2 linked regions of the Homo sapiens genome follow. Changing the gene in region 1 together with any one later gene gives a genetic interaction. Each region holds a gene or a part of one and is shown on either strand. Other genes may lie near its edges.

Region 1 (5,300 bases):
GAAAAAGGCAAGTAGATAAAGCAAAAGTACAAATTTATGAACCTAGGTGAAGGATATGCAGACATTAATTGTAAATTTTTTTTTTGAGACAGTCTCGCTGTGCCACCCAGTGCAGTGAGGCGATCATGGCTCACCGTACCCTCAAACTCCTTGGCTCGTGATCTTCCCACCTCAGCCTCCTAAGTAGCTGGGACTACAGTTGTATAACGCCACACACGGCATATTTTTTATTTTTTGTAGAGACACGGGTCTCACTATGTTGTCCAGGCTGGTCTCAAACTCCTGGGCTCAAGCAATCTTCCTGCCCAGCCTCCCAAAGCACTGGGATTACAGACGTGAGCCACTGCACCCAGCCCACTGTAAAATTTGTCCAAAGGCTTCAAATCTTTCAGGATGAAGTGTCAGGAAAGACTACCTGCATAGCCAAGATTATGGCAGCTATATAAATCCAAATATCCAAACACATGTCCAAAAACTACACAGACCAACCAACCGGAGAAACAAAGAAAATCACCAACGTCTCATATCTTCAACATACTTAGAAGACTGAAAATACTACAAGCTTCTAATTACCCATAAGTAGAAAAACGTCAATTTCTTGTAGAGATGTTTCTCAATCTCTCATCTCAGCTCTTTAAGGACAGCAAAGAGGGATCCAGATAGGAAGAGAGATGCAAAGAAGAGAGAAGAGGGCTGGGCGCACCGGGCGCGGTGGCTCATGCCTGTAATCCCAGCACTCTGGGAAGCTGAGGCAGGCGGATCACGAGGTCAGGAGTTTGAGACCAGCCTGGCCAAGATGGTGAAACCCCGTCTCTACTGAAAATACAAAAATTAGGTGGGCGTGGTTGTGTGCGCCTGTAATCCCAGCTATTCGGGAGGCTGAGGCAGGAGAATCACTTGAACCTGGGAGGCAGAGGTTGCAGTGAGCAGAGATCACACCACTGCACTCCAGCCTGGGTGACAGAATGAGACTCTGTCTCAAAAAAAAAAAGAAGAGAGAAGAGGACAATGGAGAGCCTAAGATGGAACTAAAATATCACCCTGAAAAAGAAAACTCACGGTAAGTATGAAAACACCAACAAAGAATTCCGTTAAATCGGGAGGGAGGAAGGGAAGGTCGGGTAGAGACACTTTTAAACACATGCAGAACTTGATGAGGTAGTCTTGAAAACGCAAGCCTTCTGGGAAGAAGGAGAAAAAGAATGAAAGGGTACCCTCTGTTGGCCGGGCGCGGTGGCTCACGCCTGTAATCCTAGCACTTTGGGAGGCCAAGGCGGGCGGATCACGAGGTCAAGAGATGGAGAACAGCCTTGCCAACATGATGAAACCCAGTCTCTACTAAAAATACAAAAATTAGTTGGGTGTGGTGGCGCGTGCCTGTAGTCCCAGCTACTCAGGAAGCTGAGGCAGGAGAATTGCTTGAACCCGGGAGGCAGAGGTAGCAGTGAGCAGAGGTTGCAGTGAGCCAAGATTGCGCCACTGCACTCCAGCCTGGAGACAGAGCAAGACTCCGTCTAAAACAAAACAAAACAAAACAAAACCAAAGAGAAAGGGTACCCTCTGAAAACTGTGCTGTGAAAGACACAAAGAAAATGTAAGAGCCAAAGGACATAGAACCACCTCCCCGACAAAAAAGCCTTCTAGTAGAATTAGAAGCCATACTTGACTACACCTAGAAAAGAATAGGAACTACTCTTGAACTAGGAATCTCAAAAATCATCCTGAATGACTGTCACTCCTGCTCACGAAATGCAAACTTCGAGAAAAAAAAAAGATTGAAAAGAATGAAAGAACCTCAGGATCCTGTGGGCTAATATCAAAATGTCTAACTCACATACAATTGAAGTGAAATTGAACTCACATACAGAAGAAGTGAAAGAGAATGGAACAGAAGAAATATTTTTAAAACTAATAGCTCCAAATTTCCCAAATTGGCCGACAGACATAAATTTACAGATTTAAGAAGCTCTGCAAATCTCAAGAATAAATCTCCGGATAAATACAAATAAAATGACACCTAGATACACCACAGACAAACTGCTAAAAAACAAAAATAAAGAGAAAATCTTGAAAGCAGGTAGAGAATGATAACACATTACATACAGAGTAATGAATGATGCAAATGATGGCTCCATTTTACAATAAAGGTAAGAAACATATCTAGAAATCAATTTAACAAAATATGTATAAGACTTCTGAACTGAAAACCATAAAACAGAACTAAAAGAATTTTTTTTTTTTGAGACAGAGTTTCACTCTTGTTGCCCAGGCTGGAGTGCAATGGCACCATCTCGGCTCACTGCAACCTCTGCCTCCCAGGTTCAAGTGATTCTCCTGCCTCAGCCTCCAGAGTAGCTGGGATTACAGGCATGCGCCACCATGCCTGGCAAATTTTGTATTTTTCGTAGAGACAGGGTTTCTCCATGTTGGTCAGGCTGGTCTCAAACTCCTGACCTCAGGTGATCCACCCGGCTCAGCCTCCCAAATTGCTGGGATTACAGGTGTGAGCCGCCACACCTGGCCCAAAATTTTTATTTTTATTATTATTATTTTTTGAGACAGAGTTTTGCTCTTGTTGCCCAGGCTGGAGTGCAATGGCACTATCTCAGCTCACTGCAACCTCCACCTCCTGAGCAAGTTCAAGCAGTTCTCCTGCCTCAGCCTCCCAAGTAGCTGAGACTACAGGCACCTGCCACCACACCTGGCTAATTTTTGTATTTTTAGTAGAGACGGGGTTTCACCATGTTGGCCAGGCTGGTCTCGAACTCCTGACCTCAGCTGATCTGCCCGCTGCAGACTCCCAAAGTGCTGGGATTACAGGCATAAGCCACTGCACCCGGCCTAAAAAGAAATTTTAAAAGGCTTAAATAAGAAGGAAAATGCACCAAGTTCATATATTTGAAGACTCAATACTGTTTAGGTGTCATTTCTTTCCAAATTGATCCATAGATTCAATGCAATCCCAATCACAACTTTACCAGACTTTTCTGTAAAACTGGTAAAGATAATTCTGATATTTATATGGAAATGCAGAGGATTTAGAATATTCACATCAAGCTTGAAAACAACAAAATTGGAAGACCTACAACTACATGACTTCAAGACTTACTAAAAAGCTACAGTAATTAAAAGTGTGGTACTAACACAAGGATTGAACAATGGAACAGAAAAGGGAGTGCAGACATCAATTACCATTTGTACAGTCATCTTAATTTCCAAAACGCAATACAATAGCATTTTCAACAAATGGTGCTGGAATGACTGGATATCTATATGGAAAAGAAATTAATATTTAATTATATCTCACACCATTCACCTAAACTAGAAATGGGTGATAGGCTTAAACATAAAACTAAAACTATAAAATTTATAGGCCGGGCACGGTGGCTCACGCCTATAATCCCAGCATGTTGGGAGACCGAGGCGGGTGGATCACAAGGTCAAGAGTTCAAGACCAACCTGGCCAACCTGGTGAAACCCTGTCTCTAATAAAAATACAAAAATTAGTTGGGCATGGTGGCGCATGTCTGTAATCCCAGCTACTCGGGAGGCTGGGGCAGGAGAATCGCTTGAACCTGGGAGGCAGAGGTTGCAGTGAGCGGAGATCGCCATCACCGCACTCCAGCCTGGACGACAGAGCAAGACTCTGTCTCAAAAAAAAAAAAAACTTACAGAAGAAAACATGAAAGATTATCTTCACAGCCTGAAGGTAGCCAAGATTTCCTAGGACTCAGAAAGCAGTAACTATAAAAGAAAATATAAGAGAAAACTGATTACATCAAAATGTAAAACTTCTGTTCATCAGACAACTCTAAGAAAATGAATAGGCAACCAGACAGAGGACAGGTAACCAGGATATAAAGGTTATATAAATAACTGCTACAACTCAATAATAAAAAGACACACAACCCAATGTAAAATGGGCAAAAGATTTGAGCAGGCACTTCACAAAGGAAGATGCACATTGTCATGGGCACAGGAAAAAGTGCTAAACACCATTAGTGACTGAGGACTAAAATTAAGACCATGACACACCACACCCATCAGAATAACTCAAAAGACTGACAACACCAAATGCTGGCAAGGATGTAAAGCAACTGGAACTCTCATACACTGTTGGCAGGAAACAGGCTGATAAAACCACTCAGCTGTTAATGCACACTACTCTTCATGAAAACCAAAGGCCGACTCCAAGGACGGAGCCACACGTCCAGGGAGTAGAGCAGCAGAGGCCCAATCCCAGGCCTGGAGCCCTACTGGTTTTTTGAGACGAAGTCTTGTTCAGTCGCCCAGGCTGGAGTGCAGTGGCACAATCTCGGCTCACTGCAACCTCCATCTTCCTGACTGAAGCAATTCTCCAGCCTCAGCCTCCCGAGTAACTGGGACTACAGGCACGTGCCATCACGCCCAGCTAATTCTAATTCTTGTATTTTTAGTAGAGATGGGGTTTCACTATATTGCTCAGGCTGGTCTCGAACTCCTGAGCTCAAGTGATCCCCCCGCCTCGGCCTCCCAAAGTGCCAGGATTACAGACGTGAGCCACCGCGCCTGGCCTATTAGTTCTTTATTTATCTTGAATATCAGTCTTTTGTCAAATAGGTCCCTGTGTTTCCCCATTCATTTTCTTAGAGTAGTCTGTGATTACATTTTGATGTAATCAATCATATTTATCTTTGTGTGTGTGGTTTTTTTTTTGGGTTTTTTTTGCTTTTTTAAGTGACTCTGGCATCCTGAGCCCTAAGAAACCTTTGCACACACTCAGGTCATGAAGATATTCTTCTCATCTTCTTCCAGAAGCCTCACGGTTTTCTAATTTTGAAAATAGGTCTGGGCGGGGCCCGCTGGGTGCAGTTGCTCACACCTGTAATCCCAGCACTTTGGGAGGCTGAGGCAGGCGGATTGCATGAGGTGAGGAGTTCAAGACCAGCCTGGCCAACATCATGAAACTCCATCTCTACAAAAAATACAAAAATTAGCTGGGCCTGGTGGAATGTTCCCGTAGTCCTAGCTACTCAGGGGGCTGAGGTGGAAGGCTTGCTTCAGCCTGGAAGGTAGAGGCTGCAGTGAGAAGAGATCACCCCACTGCACTCCAGCCTGGGTGACAGAACGAGACTGTCTCAAAAAAAAAGAAAGAAAGAAATTAAGTAGCCAGGAGTGGTGGCTCACGCCTGTAATCCCAGCACTTGAGGCTGAAGTGGAAGGATCGCTTGAGGCTCAGGAGTTCAAGACAAGCCTAGGGAACATGGCTGTCTCTACAAGCAGCAAAACGTTAGTCGGGCATGGTGGAGCATGCCGGCAGT
Region 2 (5,300 bases), on another chromosome or scaffold:
AGGCTGTTTTATTCAATATGGTAGTCATATGTGGCTATTTTAATTGAATAAAACAAAAAATTCAGTCCCTTAGCTGTGCTAGCCACATTTCATGTGCTTAGTAGCCAAATGTAACTGATTGCTTCTATACAGCAGCTTCTCAAACATTTCCATCACTACAGCAAGTTCTATTTGACACCACTGGCAATGTGGCAACAATCTTAGTGAAGAAAGAACTCATGACTCAAATGGGGAAATAAAAAGAAAAATCTTATTCACTAATGGAGGCATCAAGATTTATATACCTCAGGCAAAAAACAACAACAGTGAAAAAACAACAAAAATAGATTTATATACCTATAGAAATCCACAAACCTAAAGGCAGAAACACAAGAGTACATAATGGCACTGTGGGGGTGTATTATAAAAACAGTAAGCCACAAATATATAATGTTCTATTTCTAAAGCAATAAAAAGGCAACATGTAATGATGTGAAATCTAATTATCAATACATTTACTACTGAAAGTTTCTTGGTAAAAATTATAGTATTCAACAATGTATCAATCAGTTTTAAGAGAAAAGTGCTAATGAAAGACATAAAAGAAACAAAACTTCAAAGAAATTTGACTATTTTGAATGTCAAAGGAAGAAAACTTGTTTAGCCTCAATTTCAAAATGTCAAAAACATATCAGGAAGAAAACTCTGACACGTGATTAAAAACACAGAGTAGAGATCAACAGCATTTGGAAGACCTGAAAATAAATAGTCTAATAGCATAATGATGCCAAGGCGGAACAAAAGGGAATGTATATTTTTCAAAAGCTAGTAGGGTGTTCTCTAATGTGGCTCATTTTTTGAAGGACATAAAACAAAGACAGATATAAAAAGAAAGGGCATGAGCTTGTACACATAGAATTAATCTGATCCTCGAAATAAACTGAAATCTGTAAAAAGAACAGAAGGGGCTTCTAAGAGCCATATACTGATCATGAAGAATGAGAAAGAGCAGGTACAATGCTTGGAACAGATGATGTAACATTAACAGATTTTAGAGAAAAAGCAGGATTATTGTTCAATAGCTATCATTTTTATCTTGTCCATAAAACTATAAAAGGAAAAACAACATAATTAAGACAAAATTGAAAACTAAGACAGGTAAGATAACTGCATTAAGGCAGTTTAAAATCTCAAGGCTCTGGATAATTACATCTCAGGGTACTAGAAGAACCAAAAGATGTAGTCAAAAATCAGTCAGCAATATTTGAGACACGGAAATGAAAAACTGTAGAAGTATCAGTATAACAGTGAAAGGTAAATTATACTATTTCTAAAAATGAGAAAAAAAGTAGATAGGTAAAATTATTATCAGTCTCCAGCAAAATTCTAAGTCTTTATAGAGCCAATAAAAAAAAATGCAGTGTAGGAGCTGGTGCTACTGCATTACTATTAGAAATCAAAGTTTAAAAATTTATTATAAACTATTTCACTTTCTGTTTGAACAAGCTTACTAGACTAGTAAATTAGAAGACTGGAATACATATATCTTCTATATCTTTACTTGAGCAAAGTATATGACAGTCTATTTATTCTTGTAGCCAAGACAAATAAATACAGCCTGAATCAAAATAAAATTAGGAGGGAAAAAAGTCTCTTCAACAAATGGTGCTGGAAAGACTAGACATCTATATGCAGAAGAATGAGCTGAAGCCCTATTTCATAACATATACAAAAATTAACCCAAAGCAAAGACTGACATGTAAGAGCAAAAACTATAAAGCTCTTAGAAGAAAACAAAGATAAATCTTCATTACATTGAATTTGCCAATGAATTCTTAAATATGACACCAAAAGCACAAATAACAAAAGAAAAAATAGATTAAAATACGGCTATAATTTAAAACAAAAAAGAAAAATAAGTTTTGGCAAGGATGTGGAGAGACTGAAACCTTCACACCCTGCTAGTACGAACGCTAGTGAGAACATAAATTGTTCAACTGCTGTAGAAAACAGCTTGGCAGCTCCTCAAAAAGTTAAATATAGAATTAACGTATGACCCAACAATTCCACTTGTGTGTGTGTGTGTGTGTGTGTGTGTGTGTATATATATATATATAAAATTTCTTTTCAAAAGAATTGAAAACAGGTACTCAAATATATGTACACGTACGTTCATAGCAGCACTATCCACAATAGCTAAAAGGTGGAAACAGTCTGAATGTCCATCAACTGATGAATGTATAAAACGTGGCATATCCATATAGTATTATTATAAATTGGAATATACAATATGGAACATGTATATGAATATTATTCAGCCATAAAAAGGAATGAAGTACTGATGCATGGTACAACATGAATGAACCTTGAAAACATTATGCTAAGTGAAAAAAGGTACGCACGCAAGGTCACAATATTGTATGATTTCATTTATATGAAGCTTCCAAAACAGGCAAATACTTAGAGATAGAAAGCAGATCAGCAGCGGCCAGGGATTAGGGCAAGAAAGAACGTGGAATGACTGCTTAACAAGTACTGTGTTTCCTTTTGGGATGCTGAAAATACTGGAACTAAATAGAGATGATGGTTGCACAATATTGAGGATGTACTAGAAGCCACTGAACTGTACACTTTCAAATGCTTAATTTTATGTTACATGAATTTTACCTCAATAAATAAATGAAATCAGGTAGATTTATACATGAATATGACACAGTACATTCTCACAACCCCAATCTCCATTCCAGTTTGAGAATCACCAATCTATTAGGTCCCAGCACTCTATGATTCTAATTTCTGCTGAGTTATTTGATATTGGTAGAAAATTAACATTGACAGAATTAAATTCCTAAGGATAAGAAATAGCAAATATGCTTCTATTTTACTACCTTTGTAAAAAGACCAGAAAGAATAAAAGTTGTATGCAATTACACAAAGTGTTCATGTTTAGAATCACAGGAGATGAAGACAATATGTCTTACTTTACACAGTTCAAAAACCTATTTCAAAGATTAAGTAGCTTTTAAGAGGTTAATCATCTATGTAAATTACATATTCCATGCTTATAATTAATACTGAACTACAATAAAAATCTGGCTTAAAACTTACCGTAACTGATTAGAGAAGTCATCCTCTACATTGTCATCATCCCAATTATCCTCCCAGACATGTGCATCTTCATCTTCATCTAAGCCAGCCCAGTCTAAAAATAGAAACAGATGCTGTCTAAATATTTCTCATACATTATTTCCACAATTACAAAAACTTTGAAAAGCTTGCTACTGAACACTCACAATTCAAAAACAGCTAAAACCATATCTATGAAAAATGGTATCTTCCTTAAATCTGAGCTTATGCTGTCTAGTTCTCTCAATTCTTGAGTTTGCAGATAACCTAAAACAGAAGTTAATACAAAAAATTCTACTTGCCAAGAAACTTACAATTTCAGGAGGATATTTACTTTACTGATTTTTCTTTGAACTCATTTTTAGAAGGTCGACTTCACAATCTTTCAAAACACAACACCAACAACCCTAAAGCAAGTTGAATGGCAGGAAGATACCAGTGTGAAATTCAAAACTGCAAAACGTAAGGATAACTTATATACAAATATTTAAAAGTAGACCAAACTGTAAGCCACCACTAGTATCTGCCTAATACAACTGATACAAAATTTATATTTTTAAAGGAAGAATAAACATAAATATGCATAAAGAAGAATATTGTAGTTTTTAGTTTTCTAGATTTTCTTCCTCCCTTTGGTAGTGGTAGAGGGGAGGTTTAGATTGAGATTTCAGCTTTTGTTTAGAATGGTGAGAAAGTACGTACGTATTACCACTATTCTCTAACCTCAAATCTCAAGCTTTAAATATGCTATGTGGGTTGAGCCTGGAAATAGAAATTATCTATTTGATAGTTATTTTAAGGAGTCTTTATAAAGATGTCTAATGGAGTTTTATGTTACAAAAAAATAATTTAAATAAAGACTAGATACTATGTTCTTGAGTAAAGGGGGTGACATAACTCAAAATCACAACAGAACTGTTTCAAGGTTCTAAGACAACAAGCAGATTCTACTCAGCTTGAACCACTTCCAAATAACCAGCTTCCTAAACTGTTAAGTAGGTCGCTTCCATCTGCATTGGTCCCTAAAAAGGAAATAATCATGTGTCAAAAGATTCAAGCCAGAAATATAAAATAATATTTTACACTTTTCTGCTAACCTTGTAAGTCTTTGAAAAATACTGTAGAGCCTTATCTTTTAAAGCAACTATCTTTTAAGAAACAAAATTTTTCATCTAATTATGATTTGATTCAAAATGTTATTTCAATAGTTATTAAGTGATGTCTTCAAGTTGACTTTACTTCTTTTAACTTAGAGAGGGGAAAAATATTTAAGAATGGTACAATTTTTTTAGTTTATAAAGTTAAACTCTGATGATCATTTACAACAAAGATAAAGCATCTCTCCCTCGTCTAATAACCATCTCACCCTATTTTAATGGCTGGGAAAGGAAAGGAAAAAGTAGAGATAAAGTCCCAGGAAAAAGGAACTGGCTCATGAAGAGGGGGAAAAAGAATACTGTGAGCAACATTTTAGGTAGAACATATAAAAAAGATTCATAACAATACCTCTATAGTTCTTTCGTATTACTATACAGTACTTCATAGTTATGACACTACTGAGTAAACAAAGACGAAAGAGCTGGCCAAATTCTTCGTTAATTATCTGATAAATCTAGATAAACTTTGTAGCCTTAATACCATTATCTTAAGCAGTAAGAAGCACTAATGTCTACGTAATAGCATACCACCCTTCCAATTATCATAGATGAGGAATCTGAGAAATAACCTTTCTATTACAACTTATTAAGCAGTTAAAATTAATATGAGCACTGTTAAGAAAAATAGTGCTAACACTGACAAACCAGAATCTATTTTGGATGGATATTTTAAACAGTGTATTAACCTGGATTATGTACTTAACTATATTACATAAAAAGCTTATGTGATAGGGTATAATGCCCCAAAATAGTATGTCCAACACTTACAAATTCTCTATACTATACATACATGTTACAATATATGTAAGTTACAATACATACAAACTCTACTCAATGTATAACATGAAAAAGCTGTAACTATTGTAATCTCTGGGTTTAGCTGACATCTTCTTGGATCTCTGAATTGTGTTTTAATTTTCAACTCTAACACTACACTGACAACCAAGCAATTTTAATCACTCAGTTTTAAAGGGTTAACTCCAGAAATAGTTTTGAAAAGGACAAAATATAACCAAACAATGATACCCATGATATCTG

The links. A genetic interaction does not mean that the proteins touch.
Region 2: of RAD52 (region 1) and SEM1, changing one enhances a phenotype caused by changing the other (phenotypic enhancement), as found in Homo sapiens cells (one study listed by BioGRID).

What each region holds. Positions count from the first base shown.
Region 1 is NC_000012.12:939,095-944,394, forward strand, and holds part of RAD52 (DNA repair protein RAD52 homolog), read right to left. Parts: intron 1-5,300. UniProt on the Homo sapiens protein: Involved in double-stranded break repair. Plays a central role in genetic recombination and DNA repair by promoting the annealing of complementary single-stranded DNA and by stimulation of the RAD51 recombinase.
Region 2 is NC_000007.14:96,691,711-96,697,010, forward strand, and holds part of SEM1 (26S proteasome complex subunit SEM1), read right to left. Parts: intron 3,182-5,300; coding exon 3,088-3,181; intron 1-3,087. UniProt on the Homo sapiens protein: Component of the 26S proteasome, a multiprotein complex involved in the ATP-dependent degradation of ubiquitinated proteins.